Regions from separate parts of the Homo sapiens genome. Here region 1 is linked to region 2. A link means that fine-mapping ties the variant in region 2 to the expression of a gene that starts in the linked region. Tissue or cell type: stomach. Region 2 holds a variant in brackets; the other region holds the start of a gene. All regions are shown on one strand. Distances are between the middles of the regions.

The links. PIP is the estimated chance that this variant, and not a neighbour inherited with it, causes the effect.
Region 1: it holds the start of KALRN, and the variant in region 2 is fine-mapped to the expression of KALRN in stomach (GTEx, PIP above 0.99). The same link has a PIP of 0.9 or more in lymphoblastoid cells.

Annotation. Positions count from the first base shown.
Region 1 is chr3:124,028,616-124,036,723 of GRCh38, forward strand. KALRN (kalirin RhoGEF kinase) reads left to right here and starts at 4,754. Exons shown (of 60, transcript NM_001388419.1): 1 at 4,754-5,198. The coding sequence starts at 5,126. RefSeq lists a silencer at 4,270-4,729.
Region 2 is chr3:124,629,925-124,638,032 of GRCh38, forward strand. It overlaps KALRN (kalirin RhoGEF kinase), which reads left to right. Exons shown (of 60, transcript NM_001388419.1): 35 at 2,496-2,779; 36 at 3,928-4,029; 37 at 7,284-7,379. Among named protein-coding and RNA genes, the nearest start is that of UMPS, 96 kb to the right of the region's middle. RefSeq lists an enhancer at 4,896-5,397. The variant T/G (reference allele first, on the strand shown) is at 3,364.

The sequences.
Region 1 (8,108 bases), 600 kb before region 2:
TTGTTCAGAAATGGATATTGGATTTTTGTCAAATTATTTTCCTGCATCTACTTAGATGATCACATGGTATCGCTTTTTTAAATTTAAATTTTATTTTATTTTTTGAGACATGATCTGACTTTCATGCCACCATGTCCGGCTACTTTTTGTATTTTTTGTAGAGATGGGTTATGCCATGTCGCCCAGGCTGGTTTCAGTCTCCTGGGATCAAGGGATTTGCCCACCTTGGTCTCCCAAAGTGCTAGGATTACGGGCGTAAGCCACCATACTCGGACTTGTATTGCTTTTTAAATATGGTATATTGGTTTCCTAGGGTTGCTGTAACGAAGTAGTGCAAACTGGGTAGCTTAAAATAATAGACATTTATTCTGTCACAGTTCTGAAGAGAAGAAGTCTGAAATCAAGTGTTAGAATGGCCATGCTCCCTCTGAGACTCTGGGGAGAATCTTTCTTTACCTCTTTCTAGCTTCTGGTGGTGGCTGTCAATTCTTGGTATTCTTTGCTGCTGCGTCACTCCAATCTCTGCCTCTGCCATTACATGGCATTTTTCCCTATGTGTCTCTGTCTTCTCTGTCTTCATATGGAATTTTTTTTTCTTCTTATCGGGACACCAGTCATATTGGATTAGGGTCCATCCTAGTGACCACATTCCAAATTTGATTATATCTGCAAACACCTTATTTCCAAATAAGGCCACTTTCACAGCTACCAGGGGTTAGGACTTTAACATACCTTTTTTGAGAATACAATTCAACCCATATCATGTGGTAAGTTACATTGAATAGTTTTCCAAATGTGAAACCAACCTTGTATATGTGGGATAAACCCACTTGGTTATGATGTATTATCCTTTTTATATATTGTAGATTTTATTTGCTAAAATTTTATTAAAAATTTTATTCCTAATAAATATTCCTAAGGAAGTAGTCTACATTTTTTTTCTTATATGGCCTTTGTTTAGTTTTGGCATCAGAGTAATGCTGGCCTCATAGAAGTAGTTGGGAAATATTTCCTCCTTTTCACTTTTCTGGAAGAGTTTTTGTGGAATTGATATTATTTCTTCCTTAAATGTTTCATAAATTTACCAAAAAACCCATGTGAATCTTGAGTTGTTTTGTGTGTGGGTGTGTGTGGGGAAAGCTTTTAAGCTACAAATTTAATTTCTATAGTAGATAAATAGCTATTTAAGTTAGCAATTTCTCCTTGAGTGAACTTTAGTAGTTTGTGTCCATCTTATGAAAGTTGTCAAATTTGTTGGCATAAAGTTGTTCATAATATTCCCTTATTATTATTTTTACATTTATAGAATTTGTAGTGATGTTACCTCTGTCATTCCTGCTAGCAGTAATTTGAGATTTTTCTCTTATTTTCTGATCAGTCTGGGTGGAGGTTTTTTTATTTTATTGATCTTAAAGAACCCACTTTAGTTTCATTGATTTTTTTCTTTTGTTTTCCTGCTATTTTATTGCCTTCTGCTCTGATCTTTTTTATTTCTGTTCTTCCACTTTGATTTCGTTTGCTCTTACAGTAGAATAGGAGCTTATTGATGGGAGATCTTTATTTTCAAAATAGGTATTTAGCACTATAAATGTCTTTCTGCTTCAGCTGCATCCCACAGATTTAGACTGCCTTAGCTGCATCCCACAGATTTTTATGTAATGTGTTTTCATTTTTATTCACTTTGAGATTCTTTCTAATATCCCCCTTTTAATTCTTTTTTTGGTGGGGGTGGCAGGGGACAAAGTCTCACTGTGTCACCCAGGCTAAAGTGCAGTGGCACAATCTTGGCTCACTGCAACCTCTGCTTCCTGGGTTCAAGTGATTCTCATGCCTCAGCCACCAGAGTAGCTGGGATTGCAGGCAAACGCTACCATGTCCGGCTAATTTTTGTATTTTTAGTAGAGATGGGTTTTGCCCTGTTGGTCAGTCTGGTCTTGAACTCCTGGCCTCAGGTGATCCCCTGGCCTCAGCCTCACAAAGTGTTAGAATTATAGGCATGAGCCATGGTGCCCAGCCCATCCTTTGAATTCTTAGTAGCTCATGTGTTATTTAGAAGTGTGTTATTTACTTTCCAAATATTTGGGAGGTTTTTCTAGATTCTTTTTGTTATTGATTTCTAGTTTAATTCTATTGTGGTCAGAGAACATACTCTGATTTTTTTTTAAAAACCAACTTAGGTATAATTTATGTACCTCTTTGCATGATTTTAATCCTTTTAAATTTATTGAGATTTGTTTTATGGCTTAGTGTATGGTTTATCTTGACAAATGCTACCTGTGCATTTGAAAAAATGTGTATCTGCTGTTATGGAGTGGAATATTCTATAAATGTCAGTTAGGTTAGGTTGGTTGATAACATTGTTCAAGTCTTCCATATCTTTACTGATGATCTGTCTCCTTATTCTATTAATTACTGCATTTTACAGATATTAAATTATCTGACTATAATTATAAATTTTTATATTTCTCCTTGCAATCCTATCAGTTTTGCTTCATGTACTTTGAAGCTATCTTATTAGGTGCAAACACTCTTAGGATTGTTACGTCTGCTTGATGAATTGAAATGTTCCTCTTTATCCCTGGTAATATTCTTTGCTTTGAAGTCTTCTTTGATATTAATATAGCCATGAACACTTAACATTTTAATAGAAGTTGCCAAATTTCCTCTCAAAAAAAGTTTGTGTCATTACATAAGGTGTTCCCCCTTTCTTGTCTATATCTTGAGATTTTGATATGACCCTTCCTCTAAACATGTAATGTTTCTTCTGAATTGTGATGAGCTAATGCCTTGCCAGGCCACTGGTTCTTTAGCTGCACAATGGTGGCAATTAATTAATAGCAGCTCTGCCATCACATATGTGTGTGCGGGGGTAGGGGAGCAGACCAGGGGTTAGGCAAAGGATTAAGGGGAAGGAAGATTTTGAAAAGACAAATGAGAAGTATTTTCATTGTCAGAAAAGGCATAGGCAAAGGGGCATCTTAAGCCAGTTCAAGATACTAGGGCCAGATGAATTAGATCTCAGGGCAGTGAACTTGTGATGTCAGAGTCACTACAGAGGTCTGATAGATGTACTCAAGGTTGGAGACAGGTCTGATAGGTGTATCCAAGGTTGGAAACAGGTACTTTTTTTTAATGGGTGAAAAAAAATTAGACTGTTTGTGTCAGTGAAGAACGTGATGCGTACAGGGAGCCAGAAAGTGTTCACTAAAAACTAATTTAATTCATTTTATTTGCTACAAGTTTACACAGTTGGTGGATCTGCATAGGCCCCAGTTGCCTTGGCCCCCAGAGAGAGGTGGAACCAAACAGGTTACTAGAGACAAACAGATCCAGGAGATTCTGTCTGATGGGTTGCAGTCATTAACTTCAGACCAGTACCTGGTTTTCCTATTAGGCGTGTTTTAACACATTAGGTCAGGCCACCACTTCTCCATCTGTCTGGATGAGGCAACAGCGAACAGCGCTCAGCAGACCTTATTAAGTACTCAGGTCTTAAAGACCCTCTGTTTGGTGGGCTCTGTAGTCACTAGAACCATAAACACACTACTGGCTAATTATTGTTTAATTATTGCTTAAAAACTGATGGGCACAATACAATCACCGCATTAATTACCCCATACAGCATCTGTTTTCTTTTTTGCAGCCATCCCCATTCCTCCCCAGCCCCTCTCCCCACTTTAATTGAAATTCAGCTTGCTGTAACACCTCCTTCCTCCTGGCCAACTGGATCTCTCCATTCACATGAGGGAGAACAAAACCGAGAAGGCCCCAGGGATTAGAGAGTTTTGACAGCTGTCCAAGAGGAGCGCGGAGATACGGGCCAAGTACGGAGGCAGGACAGAGACAAACGAGGGACAAGAGAGTGACGGAGGGAGGGAGAGATAGGCAGGGAGACATCACAGGAGCATTAAACTGGACAAAGAGTCACAGAGACAGGCGGAGATGTTTAAAGGGGCGCTGAAAAGGGGAAAAGGACGAGAAAAGATAAAAAGGAGAGAAACTGTGGCGAGCTGGTGAGGAAAATGTGAGAGGCTCAGGAGGGCAGGGAGACAGAAGAGAGCTCGTCAGGAAGGAGGGGAAGAAAGGCCGGCCTCTAGGGACAGGTCAGTCCAGCTTGGAGACCGATCTGAAGATCCAGAGAAGGCGGGCGGGCAGCCTGGTGGTCCCCTCACACACCTGGGAGTGGAGTGGACGGAGGAGGTGGCCGCGGGGCCGGGAGGAGCACCGGCGGCGCGAGCGGAGAAGCTGAGCGCGCAGCGCCCGGGCCGCAGAGCCCCCTGGACAAGCCTGGCGTGTGCCCTGCAGCCCCGGGCTCGCCCGGCGGCCCCGCCCCCTCCCTGGCCCGGGCTTTTCCTGCGGAGCTCAGGAAGCCGGCCTAGCACAGCCTCGAACAATAGCTCGGGACTCGGGCTCCGCTCCCCGGGAGGCCGGCGCGGGGCCGCTGGGACTGGGGGCGTAGGCGCCGCCGGGGGCCCGCAGCGAGCCCTCGGCCCCGGCCGGAGCTTCAATTCAGCTCGGCGCTCCCGGGGTCATTGTTGGCCGGGACTGAGGGAGCGGGAGCCGGGGGAGGAGCTGGGGAGGCGGCTGCTGCGGCGGCGGCGGCGGCGGGAGCCAGAGGGGGAGCTAGAGAGCGAGCGAGCGAAGGAGGGAGGTAGCGAGTGAGCGAGTGAGCGAGGGAGGGAGGAGGTAGGGAGACAGGGAGGGTGGGAGGGAGGAGGAAAAATAAAGAGGAGAGAGCGGAGCAGGGCTGAACAATAGAGACAGGCAGACGGGCGAGCAGGAGAGCCAGCTGCCGCTGCTGGGGGACAGCGGGCGCCCAGGCAGCCCGCACCCCGGCCCCGGGCCCCGGCCCCAGCCAGACAGCAGGCGGCCAGCGCCCTGGGGAAGGGGTACCATGGGGGAGCTGGCGGCAGGCACCCCCAGCCCGCCGCGCGCCTCCGCCTGAGGGAGGCTCAGCGTCCTCTGCCCCAGCCCCGCCGCCCAACGCCCGCCCTCGAAGCTCCGCGGCCGCCAGCTCTGCGGCCGCAGCAGCTGCGCCCCGCGCCCTCCGCCCACCGGGCGCCGAGCAGCCCTCGGCCCCAGGCTTCTTCGGCTCCCGGCTGCCCGCGGACGCCCTCCCACAGTCATGAACCCCCCTGAGGGAGCAGCGGAGGAAGGAGGAGCAGCAGACTCGGACGTGGACGCCTTTTTCCGGACAGGTAAGCCGGGCAGGGCGCGGGGGGCCAGGGCTGAAGGCTACTGCCTCGGACGCGGCGTCTCGGACAAGTTTGGGGAAGGAGGGCTGTTGCTGCCGCGTGCGTGTTGGGGGGCAGTGCCCCCTCGGCGTCGGGGCTGGAGTTGCCGAGATTCTGGTTGTTATGGCAGTGCTGGCTGCGTCTGGGGAGGGCGTGGGGGCTGGGAACTCCGCGCCCCTCCGCCTTCACCCCAGTTGCGGGAGTCTGTGTTGGGGAGGTGGGAGGCGGTCCCCTCGGACCGCCTTCTCCCAGAGCGCGGGGATGGGCGGTGTTGGCTCACTTTGCAGCGCGCCGCTCCGGCTACCGGCGTCCCGGCCCCTCCCTTGGCTCCCCCTCCCCTGTGCCTGTCAGCGGGGCTCCCGGCGGCCGCCCTGGGTCGGCACCCCTCCTCGCCGTCGGGGGCCCGGGGCCCTGATGTGCACAGAGGGGCGGCGGGGACCCGGAGCCGCGCCGGCTGCAGACTGACAGGAGTGGGGCGGAAGACATCGGTCTCGCCTGGTGCGTGTGGGGAGCTGGTCCCTCTGACTTGAGAGGCAGACCCAGCTGGGAGGGCGGTGGGCGCCTCGGACCTCCCCCTTGTCCTCCTCTTCAGTTCTGGGAACGGAGGAGCTATTCATAAGAATTACTCATTCCTGGAAGTGTGAGTTAGCGTCCCTCTCATACACACCCACTAAGTCTCTGCTTGCTGTGAGGTGTAGAGCCCTGAGATGTCTTTCTAGCTCTTTGCGCCCCTGCCATCGTCCAAGTCCCGGGTCCATTGCTCCTCCTGCTCCCTGGCTACACAGTCCCTCCCTAGAACCGGCACTGACCACCCTTATCTTCCACCACCTGTGGCCCTGTTTCTCTGATGGCCAGGGATTCCCCGTCTCCCTGTACCTGTGGCTTCCACCAGCTTCTGTGTGTAGCTCCCCATCTCCCCACATGTCTGAAACAGTTTTGTCTGGAATCTTTGTCCCAAGGAGTCCAGTAAGTTACCGGGGCCCCATGCATCTGCTCTCCCTTCTGGAAAGTTGGATTAGAGGACATGAACTGGTGGGGGTCAGGGGTCAGGTTAGCTCTGGAGGGTCTCTGCACATCCATCTGTTTCCTAACCCTGTTACCTTGCCCTGGAGGTCATCTCTAGGGAAGGGGGTGGGGTGCTTTGCGGGGGAGACTTGTGGCTTTGGAAGTCAAGACTTGATTGGCTCATATGTTCATTCTCTAGTTGATGTGCAGAGGAAAAAACTGGAGGACAGGAGCTGGTGCCAGGGTCTGGGGAAATCAGAGGGAGCCCTGTCATTCTATTCTGCTTCCCAGGTCTAAGCCTTCTTTCCTTTTCTTTCTTCCTCCTTCCTTCCCTCCTTCCTCTTCCGAGACATGGATTCTATTTTCTTTCTTCTCTCTCTCTCTCTCATACACACACAGCCCAGCACCCAAAAGCATGGATTCTAAAGAGGTGGAATCTAGGGAAAAGGTGGTTCTGGGGGCTAAGTGATATTCAGAAATACTCATTATGAGGCAGAGGAGGGGAGATATGGGAATTCATAACTGGGACTAGAAACAAATTGACCAGTCAATCAAAAACCCAGCTGACCCCCCTTGCCTCCCAACTGGGGCAAAAGTCTGCATTTTCTTAGCTCTGAGGGAAAAATCTTGAAGTGTGAGCCTTCCCACCTTCCCTTTCTGGACTCCACTTTTACCTTTTGGTGCCCACTCCTCTTTCCCCTTTCCTATCATCCAAACACTAGGTCCTGTTCATTTTCTGTTCCAGGCACCCGTAGCAGAGCTCAGTTCCTGGAGGCTTGCTTATTTCTGATAATAAATTCACACAGTGTTAATGGCCAATAATAGTCCAATGTGTTACTTTTCCCAGGGCCTTTCAAAACACAAGGTGTGGCACACATTATCTAACCCTGGCTCAAATCACAGAATAAATAGCAGACTGGGGTCAGTCTCCTGTGGGATTCCTATGTTGGGGATATTCTCCCTCCTCCTTGGGCAGCCCAGTGGCTGAGCTAAGTCTGATGTGCACTTAGTATCAGAGAAAGGTTAAGTCATTGGTGCATGAGGCTGGAAATGACTGATGACCTGTAACATGTTGCAAGAGGGGGTAGGTCAAGGACTACATCCACCCTGTGTGGCCCTCTATGCTTGGCTCACTGACTGTCACCACACTTCTGGTCTCTAGCCTAGGCTCTTGCTGGGGATTCTTCTTCTTCTTTTTATTTTTATTTTTTGTTGTTAATTTTTATTTTAGGTTCAGGGGTACATGTATGGGTTATATAGATAAACTGTGTGTCACAGGGGTTTCGTATACAGATTATTTCATCACCTTGGTAATAAGCATAGTACCTGATAGGTATTTTTTCTGATTTTCTCTGTCCTCCCACCTTCCACCCTCAAGTAGGCTCCGGTGTTTGTTATTCCTCTCTTTGTGTCCATGTGTTTTCATTGTTTAACTCTCACTTATAAGTGAGAACATGAAGTATTTGGTTTTTTGTTCCTGCGTTAGTTTGCTTAAGATAACAGCCTCCACCTCCATCCATGTTGCTGCAAAGGGCATGATCTTATTCTTTTTTATGGCTGCATAGTATTCCATGATGTACATGTACCACATTTTCTTTATCTAGTCTGCCATTGATGGGCATTTAGGTTGATTCCATGTCTTTGCTATTGTGAACAGTGCTGCAATGAACATATGCATATGCGTTGGTGGAGATTCTTAAGCTTAGAAAAGCCATGTTTCTAAACCTTCTCCCTTCTGATTTCCCATCTCTGTGGAATATAGCACTATACCTGATAGGCTGGATAGATTATAAATGTATTCTATTGAACAACTGAGAAAGCTTCAAACAAATTTTCAAAGTCCCTAGCACCAGGGTTACCCCTTTCTTT
Region 2 (8,108 bases):
AATCAGTGCTCCATGACATAATTATTACTTAGGAATTTTCACTGAGGATCTTGATTTGCATGCTGATGCTCCTGTGCAACTTTCGAATGCCCAGCTTTCTCAATACTGGTAGAAACAAGCACTGAGAACTAGGAAGACATCTGAAGTGGACTTAAAGGGCTTTCTTTTGAATAACTCAAAACTATTCTCTAAAGCCAAGGTAGGTAGATGCTAATGCTGATCTCCTCCGAGTTTAATGAGTATTCAGAAATCAAGGATTTAGGGAAAATTAAATAAAGTTTGCTCAATGTGGTTTTCCTGCATGCCCACATCTGCCACATGCCTGTTCTAGCCTCTCTATTCTTCCATGGCAGCGTGGCTTTCCCTGGACTTGCTCTTCCTCAAACCTCATCCCTAACCCCATATTCAGAGGGAGCCTAGAGAACTGGGCGGGTGTAGACATGAAAGGCCCAGTAGTGTTTGTTTGTTTGTTTGTTTGTTTGTTTGTTTTGAGATGGAGTCTCCCTCTGTCACCCAGGCTGGAGTGCAGTGGTGCGATCTTGGCTCACTGCAACCTCCGCCTCCTGGGTTCAAGTGATTCTCCTGCCTCAGCCTCCTGGGTAGCTGGGATTGCAGGCATGAGGCACCACACCCGGCTCCAGTAGTGTAGTTTAGTGCTCAAGTCTGGCTGTCTGCAGTTCAGATTTCACCTTGCCCCTATGAGCTGTATGTCCTTAAGCAAGTTAACTCTTTAAGTCTGCAGTTTCTTCTTCTGTAAAATGAGGATAATGACAGAACCTACCTCATAGAGTTATACGGAGAATGAAATGATAGTCCACATAAAATGTTTAGGCTATTGCAAGCATATACGATTGAAAATAGTCAATATATGGCATACAGCTTACAAACAATATGCTGAGATTTAAAAAACAAAACAAAACAAAACAAACTCTTGTTCTCCAATCACTGTGCCTTTAAAACAGTACAAGAATTCTCTATACTCTGTCTTGTTTCTCACACCCATGCTCTTGCATCCTCTCTAATTAGGCCATGGCCCCCTCCATTCCACTACAGCTGCTTTTTTCAAAGTCACCAATGATCTCCATGTTGCTCAGTTTTAAGACTTAATTCTTAGGTCAACTCTCCTGACCTATCAGGCAGCATTTGACACGCCGATTTCTCCCTTTGTAAGACATTTTCCACGTGCAGCCTCCAGAACACCCCACCCTCCTGGTTTTACTCCTACCTCACTGGCTACTTTCTTGTCCTCTCGTCTTCCTGCTTCTGGCTTAGTCTTTGGACTTTGTCTTTATCCATACCCATGCCTCTCGCTGATCTCACCCAGCTTCATGGCTTCCAACCCCATCTCTCCTCTGACAACTCTGCAATTATCTCCAGCTCACCAGCACTTTCTCCCCTGAGCTCCAGACTTGAAGGCAAGCTGCTATTCAATTTCTCCACTCAGGTATCTAATGGGCATCTCAAAGATGTCTAAACCTAAACTCCTATATTTCCTCCCTGAGTCCTGTTCCTCCTATATTCTTCCACATCTCAGGAACCCCATCCTAACCTCAGACCCAAAACCTGAGATACCCTTGACTCTTTTTTCATATCCCATACACACATAGTCTGTCAGCAATTCATATTGGCCCTTCCAGCAAAACATCTCCAGAATCTGATCACTTCTAACAACCACTAGGACCACCCTACTTCTAAACCACCAACATCCCTCACCTGGAATAGTGCAGTGGCCTCCCAACCAGTTTCCCTATTTCCACTTGCCCTCAATATAGAAACCAGAATGACCTTTAAAAATATAAGCCAGATTGAATCACTCTGGCTCAGAATCTTCCAGTGGGTTTTCACTCCAGGTAAAAGCCAGAGGCATAGCACTGGCTTACCACATGCTTGTTGACCCAGCTCCCAGTAGCTTTTCTGACTTCCTTTCTTACTGATCCCCCCGGCTTACTCCACCAAGGCCACCCCAGGCCTTGCCTTGGGACCTTTGTGTTTGCTCTTCCGCCCAGAAGGCCCTTCGCCAGATGGCGTCACCACCACTAGGCCTTGGCTCACATGTCATGTCATGAGACTGGCCCTGATCACCTCTTCAATCTGCACCCCCTTTTCCAACCCCAGCACTCCCTAATCCCTTCCCGTACTTTGTGTTTTGATGTAGCACTTCTCACCACCTGTCATACTTTTCATTTTGCTTATTTTATTTTTATAGTCTATTATATGTGTTTCCCACCAGAATGTAAACTCCGCGAAGGCAGGAGTTTCTGTCTTCTGCCCACTCCTGTATCCATAGTACCGGGAATGGTGCTTCATACTTTAAAAATTGAGTGAGCGTTTGCCTTTCTTACTGTTGTTGAGAGGGTTCTCTGGACTGGGGTCTACAGCTGGCCTGGACATTCTGCCTTGTGTCCTAGCTTCCTGAGGATGGAGCTGTCTCAGTCCCAGGTTTGCGGCCTGCCTTCACCACCTCTGACATGGCTGTGTCTGTCCGTTTTCCTCAGATGCATACTCTCATTCCTCAAGCGAGAATGGAGGCAAGTCCGAGTCCGTGGCCAACCTGCAGGCCCAGCCCTCCCTGAACTCCATCCACAGTTCCCCGGGTCCCAAGCGCTCCACCAACACTCTTAAGAAGTGGCTGACGAGTCCTGTGCGTCGGCTTAACAGCGGGAAGGCAGATGGAAACATCAAAAAGCAGAAGAAAGTTCGCGATGGTCGGAAGAGCTTTGACCTGGGATCTCCCAAGCCTGGGGATGAAACAACCCCTCAGGGAGACAGCGCTGATGAGGTACTTACAGGGGGCCCTGGAGTTGTCCATCAGGAGGGCCTTCTGACATGTCTCCTTCCTCAGGTTTTGTCAACTAGGCCATCTCAAATCTCCATTAGTGTGTTACCTTGAGCCTAAGTGATTTGGATTCTTTTTATTCTTAAGACATTGGCCAGTTTGATTTGTGGCTGATTCAGAAGCTGACTAGCCCCTAAGACTTCCAGCAGACAGAAACCATTTGCCAGATTTGGAGATAGGACCTGGGCCTGAGGGGAGTCATTTGGTCATTAGTTCCCTACCTCTACTAAGGACTACATTAAAACCAGCTAGACCTGTTTAGATTTAGAATAAAAGAATGAAGATTGTTTCATTTTGAAAACAGGACTGTGCTGGGAGATTGTAGCTGTTTTCAAGTCTCTTGAGCAGTGCCACACATCAAAAGGAATAGATCATCCAGAGTTACTCCAGATAACTATGATGAACAGATGAAGATTACAATAGGCAGGGTTTCCGCTCAAAGAAAAAGTTTAATCTAGGAGTCAGTCAGTGATTAAATGGGCCTTCATGAAAACTAATGAACGCCCATACTGGAAGGTTTGAGAGAC[T/G]GTAGCCAAAGTTAGGCTGGATGAAGCTGAGATTCTGTAACCAAAAGACAGTGGATATGTTTTGGTTGGGGAAATGAGATACCTGTTTTATTTGGCACACAATCCTGCTCTAATCACTGATGTGGCTAAGAAATTCTTTGTGATGTGTAACTGGACCCCCTCTTGTTGTGATTTTATGCTACCTGCCATTTCTCCCTCTGGAAATGGCAGCTAAGCCTGGCGGCATTTGGGCTATGGTTTCATAGCCCTACAAAAATGTAAAAGTTAGGCTCTCTCTGACTACTTCCAGCTTTTTCTTTTCTTGCTAATCGATAAGATAGATAGTTTCTGGTTTTGCTTCTTTTTGGGGGTGTGTGTGTGTGTGTGTGTGTTCCCCACTGGTGCTCACTCTCATTTGAAATAAGCAGGTGTATCCATGTATCAAAAGAGGAAATTGCGACTGAACAGTTAAGAGTGAGTTGAGAGAGGAACTCTCCTCCTATGTATTATTTTTGTTAATGTCAAGTCCAGAACCACTGGCATGTTTGTGACACAGTAACTAATGCTGCTCTTTTGTTCTAGAAGAGCAAGAAAGGTTGGGGTGAAGATGAGCCGGATGAAGAGTCACACACACCCCTCCCACCACCTATGAAGATTTTTGACAACGACCCTACACAGGATGAAATGGTAGAACTTCTTTACTTGCTCACTTAAAAGAGCAACGTGCCGTGCGTGATTTTGTTTTTTGTGTGTGATGGGGGTAGTCATACTCTTTCTCCCATGTTATCTCGTCGTCCACATGAATCCATGTTGATACCAATTGTGTCTCTATTTGGTAGGTGTCCCTTCCCCAACCCTGGAGGTCCAACTTCATTCTAGGCAGTGGAGGGGGTGTGTGCAGAATTCTCAAAGTGGGAATCTGCCTGGTGTCTTGTCCTGTTGATAAAGGGTAATGGCTCTGTCTTTGGAAGCAGCACATCCTAAAAGGAGCAATTCCAGGTAGTTCCAGTCCACAACCATTTTGTCGTACCTGACTGTACAACCTGCATGTTAGTTGTTTTCCCTATAGTCAACTCTAAACTCTAACTAATGGTAGCTACCAGTCAAGCCCAGTGTTGGTCAAATTTTGCAATGACGGTATGAGGAATGAAGATGCTGCTAAGGGGAAGTTATTGTCAAAGGTGGGCAAACTTAATATGCGAAATTGCCTGACTTTGCTTTGCAAGATTCCCCGGCCCGCTGGCATGCATAGGCTCACTGGTATTTGAAATATCGATGCCCCCTGTGTCTCCAGTCACCCGGTGATCATCCCAGTTGTTCTGGAGCAGAAGCGTAGGTTAGACGTGCTTCCAGGTACTGACCCGAGGCTTGGGGCAGCTTTATGTTCTCCCTCACTTGTCACTCAGTCTCCTTGCAGCTCTGCTTTCACATCACCTTTTTTTTTCTGCCTTAAGTGTTGCTGATTCTCTTAGACTCTGGACGTGGAAGCGGCAGGTTTGGGTTTTGACTGTATGGCACTTTCCATTTGCTTTTTCAAGTGCTGTTTTGTTGCAGTGGTGGTAGTGGATGTGGCAGCTTGTCTACCTGTCCCTCCAGGCTCTCCTGTGCTCTCTAGTGCTCTGCCCTGTAGTGGGACAGCCTCCTGCGGGTGTGTCCTTTCTGGTGACATCTCAGTTCTTATTTTAATTCTCTCTGCTTTGCATTTGAATTGTTAACCCACAGACATTAACTGAAGTCTTCCTCTGTGCTAGGCCGGAAGGACAAAGTCTAGGGACTCTGAGATGTGGCAGCTGCCCCCATGATGTGACTCACCTAGTCGTGGCCCCTCCTAGGTGATGTTGGTGGCCCTGTCTTCAGGGCCAGCTCTTTGACTCTGGATTATTGGGAAGAGACATAGTAGGAAGGCTGGTGTTATACCATCCTGGGTTCCTGAGACAGAAGTGCTGGTGCTTCACCTTGAGATGGAAATGAGACCTGCCTACTTGTAATGTATTTTATAAACAGCGATCATGGCCTAAGGAGTAGGGTGCCCATGTCTCACACAGCCCTCTGTGCAAGGGCCCCACTTGCATAAGGTCACCACCTTCTCTCTCTAATTCCCTCAAACACAGCTTGTTTACAGAAATGGATGTTACATTGTTTCTGGATAATTTTTAACCCAGAATTCTGACTTACCTTTATTTGTGTAGCCTTTTCCTTATGCAGAAATGGGGCAGATGGCAACAGTCTCCTTTCAGATACATGAACTCTCCTTATTCCTGCTTGTTTGATTTCTGTATGTTTTTTATAAATGTTTGGGAGTGGGATGAACTTCAGAGCATCTAGCAAATGGAGTTGGATGTATTAAAACAATTTTTACAACACTGTCAAAGGAATTTTTAAAAGTTCACCGTTGTAATATTGTGCAATTGTCTTCTCCTTGTTTCCTTCTAATCTTTTTCTTATGTGTGTACGTTTTACTTTTACAATTATAATATGCATATGTTGTGTCCAATGTTTTATTTACTACCATTTCCTAAAATTGCATGAATTTTTTTCTTCCTAGCTGTAATTTTAATAGCTGGAGAAAATTTTGCTTATTTGCTGTTCCATAATGTGTTTGATCAGCCTGTTGGGGACATCCTAACAGGGTGTTTCCATTGTTTGCTACTATGGCTAATACTACTACATACAGATCACTGTGTATATACAGCATTTGTTCTTTTGACTTCTGTCCTTGGAATAAATTCCCAGGAGTAGGATTACTAGATTAAAAAGAGGATAGCTTGATTTTCCACATGGACGTAAGCTTTTTCCTGCAGTCCCCAAGAGAGGAAAAAGAATATTGTTATATCTTCCTTAATTATAATTATTTTCCTCCCATCTCAGAAGCAAAGACTTAATAAAGTAACTTAGATTAGATGAGAAGCTTCATTTTTGAAACTTTCTCTCTAACCCAAGGGGCAAACTTGAAGGAGCCTATGTCCTGGCCTTGGGAACACCACTGCCCCCTGCTCTGATAAGCTGGAAGTAAAAGCACACACAAACGGTGCAGGGTTAACTATTTCTCCCCCAGTTTCTTCTCAGGTAGAAGAAGGAAGAAAAAGCCAAACAAAAAACCACCATCCTTCAGTGAGCAGGAAGCCCCAAACCATTGACCACACAAACAACCACATGGACAACTCCTCACTGCTGGTGCAGGGGAAAAGGGACACAGGGAGGTCCTGGAGTCGTCTCTCTTTACTATGAACAGGGTAGTTCCTAGCTGCTTCAGGACTCCTGCTAAAGCCTTTTATTACTTCCTAGTGTTCCAGTTCAGGGGCCTTACCAGAGCCAGCTATGCTTTGTGGAGGGGTAAGGGTGTATGTGTGTCAGGGGCAGAGCGGGAGAGGAAGACAGAGGGAGAGAATATAGGAAGGGAGTATCTAGCTTGCTGGTCTCTAAGGGTCCTGCCCCTAGCATTTTTGCTGGACACATAATAAAGATCTATATCTAAGGCTGTAGTAAAGCAAGGACTGTTTCCCTTTTTTGGACACACTCAAGGCTGGGTTTGTTGAATCCTTCACACCCCAAAACAGCAACGGGCAGCTGTGTAGTGGCCAAAGTCTCGTTTGCCCACAGAGCAGTAGCCCCCGCCCTCCAAGCTGTTGCTGTCAGTAGGTACAACACTAGTCTGTAGGCCTCCCAGGAAGTCAGTGATTTCTCCTCTCCCCTCCTTCATAGGCTTGCCTAAGGATAGCCTAGTACCATCCATTTGCTGCTGGCTAGAATTCCTAATAAGGGGTTGGGCAGGCCTGTATGTATTACACCCACACTCTTCTCCCTCTGTCACCTCTTCCGTCTAAACACAGAACTTTGCTTCCCTTCCCTGGCTTGAGCTTTGGACTTTCTGTTTTATTTCCTGATCACTGTTCCTTATTCTTTGCTAATCTGCTTTTCCTCTGCTGCCCGATGTCTTGCAGTCCTCCTCTTTGCTAGCAGCCCGGCAGGCTTCCACTGAAGTACCTACTGCTGCAGACCTTGTCAATGCAATAGAAAAGTTGGTCAAAAACAAGCTGGTAAGTGGGGGTCCTGGAGGCAGTTCTGTGTGTGTCTCACCTTCACACTGCTCCAGGCTTGCATCTGTCTGCCGTTTTCTCCTTTGCACCTGTCCTCATTCTTCCTATGTGATTGCAGCTAATGATGGTTTCTAAAAAGCTGTACCCCAGAGTCCTTTTTGACTTTGTTTGGGAATGGGTATAGGGAATTAATACATCATTTGGGGGCTGCAGTGTTGATGAAAGTTGAAAACTATTCAAGACAAACTCACCTCATTGCAAGCCTGATCCAGCGGCCCACAGGCAAGTGGCATTCAGTCAGTGATTGATATGTATTTGGTTAGCCCAGAAGCTAGTACACCGCGATGCTGAGACCCAGAACACACTGATTGGATATTTGACAGCACTAGGAAATTTTATGGGGACTTGGGTAGCCTTCCAGCGTGCAAAGTCTTTCAAAAGTAGACTGCTGATTATAAAGGGGAATGGGCAAAAGTGTGTGGATACCTCACCACAATAAATTAAGAGAGTCAGTGCCTAGCCCTACAATGGGGGGAAAAACTGAACATAAGCCACTGGCAGCCTGTCTAGCCTGTGACTGTCTCATGGACCCATCAGCCCGTTGGAGGGATAGGTGATGAGTCTGAGCAGGTTTGGGGTTTTGGCATAATGCTGGTGAAAGGGCCCCTTTTTGGATAGCTCATTAGGATGGAGCTGTTCCTCCACTCTCCTGTTTTTACATTTAAGTGT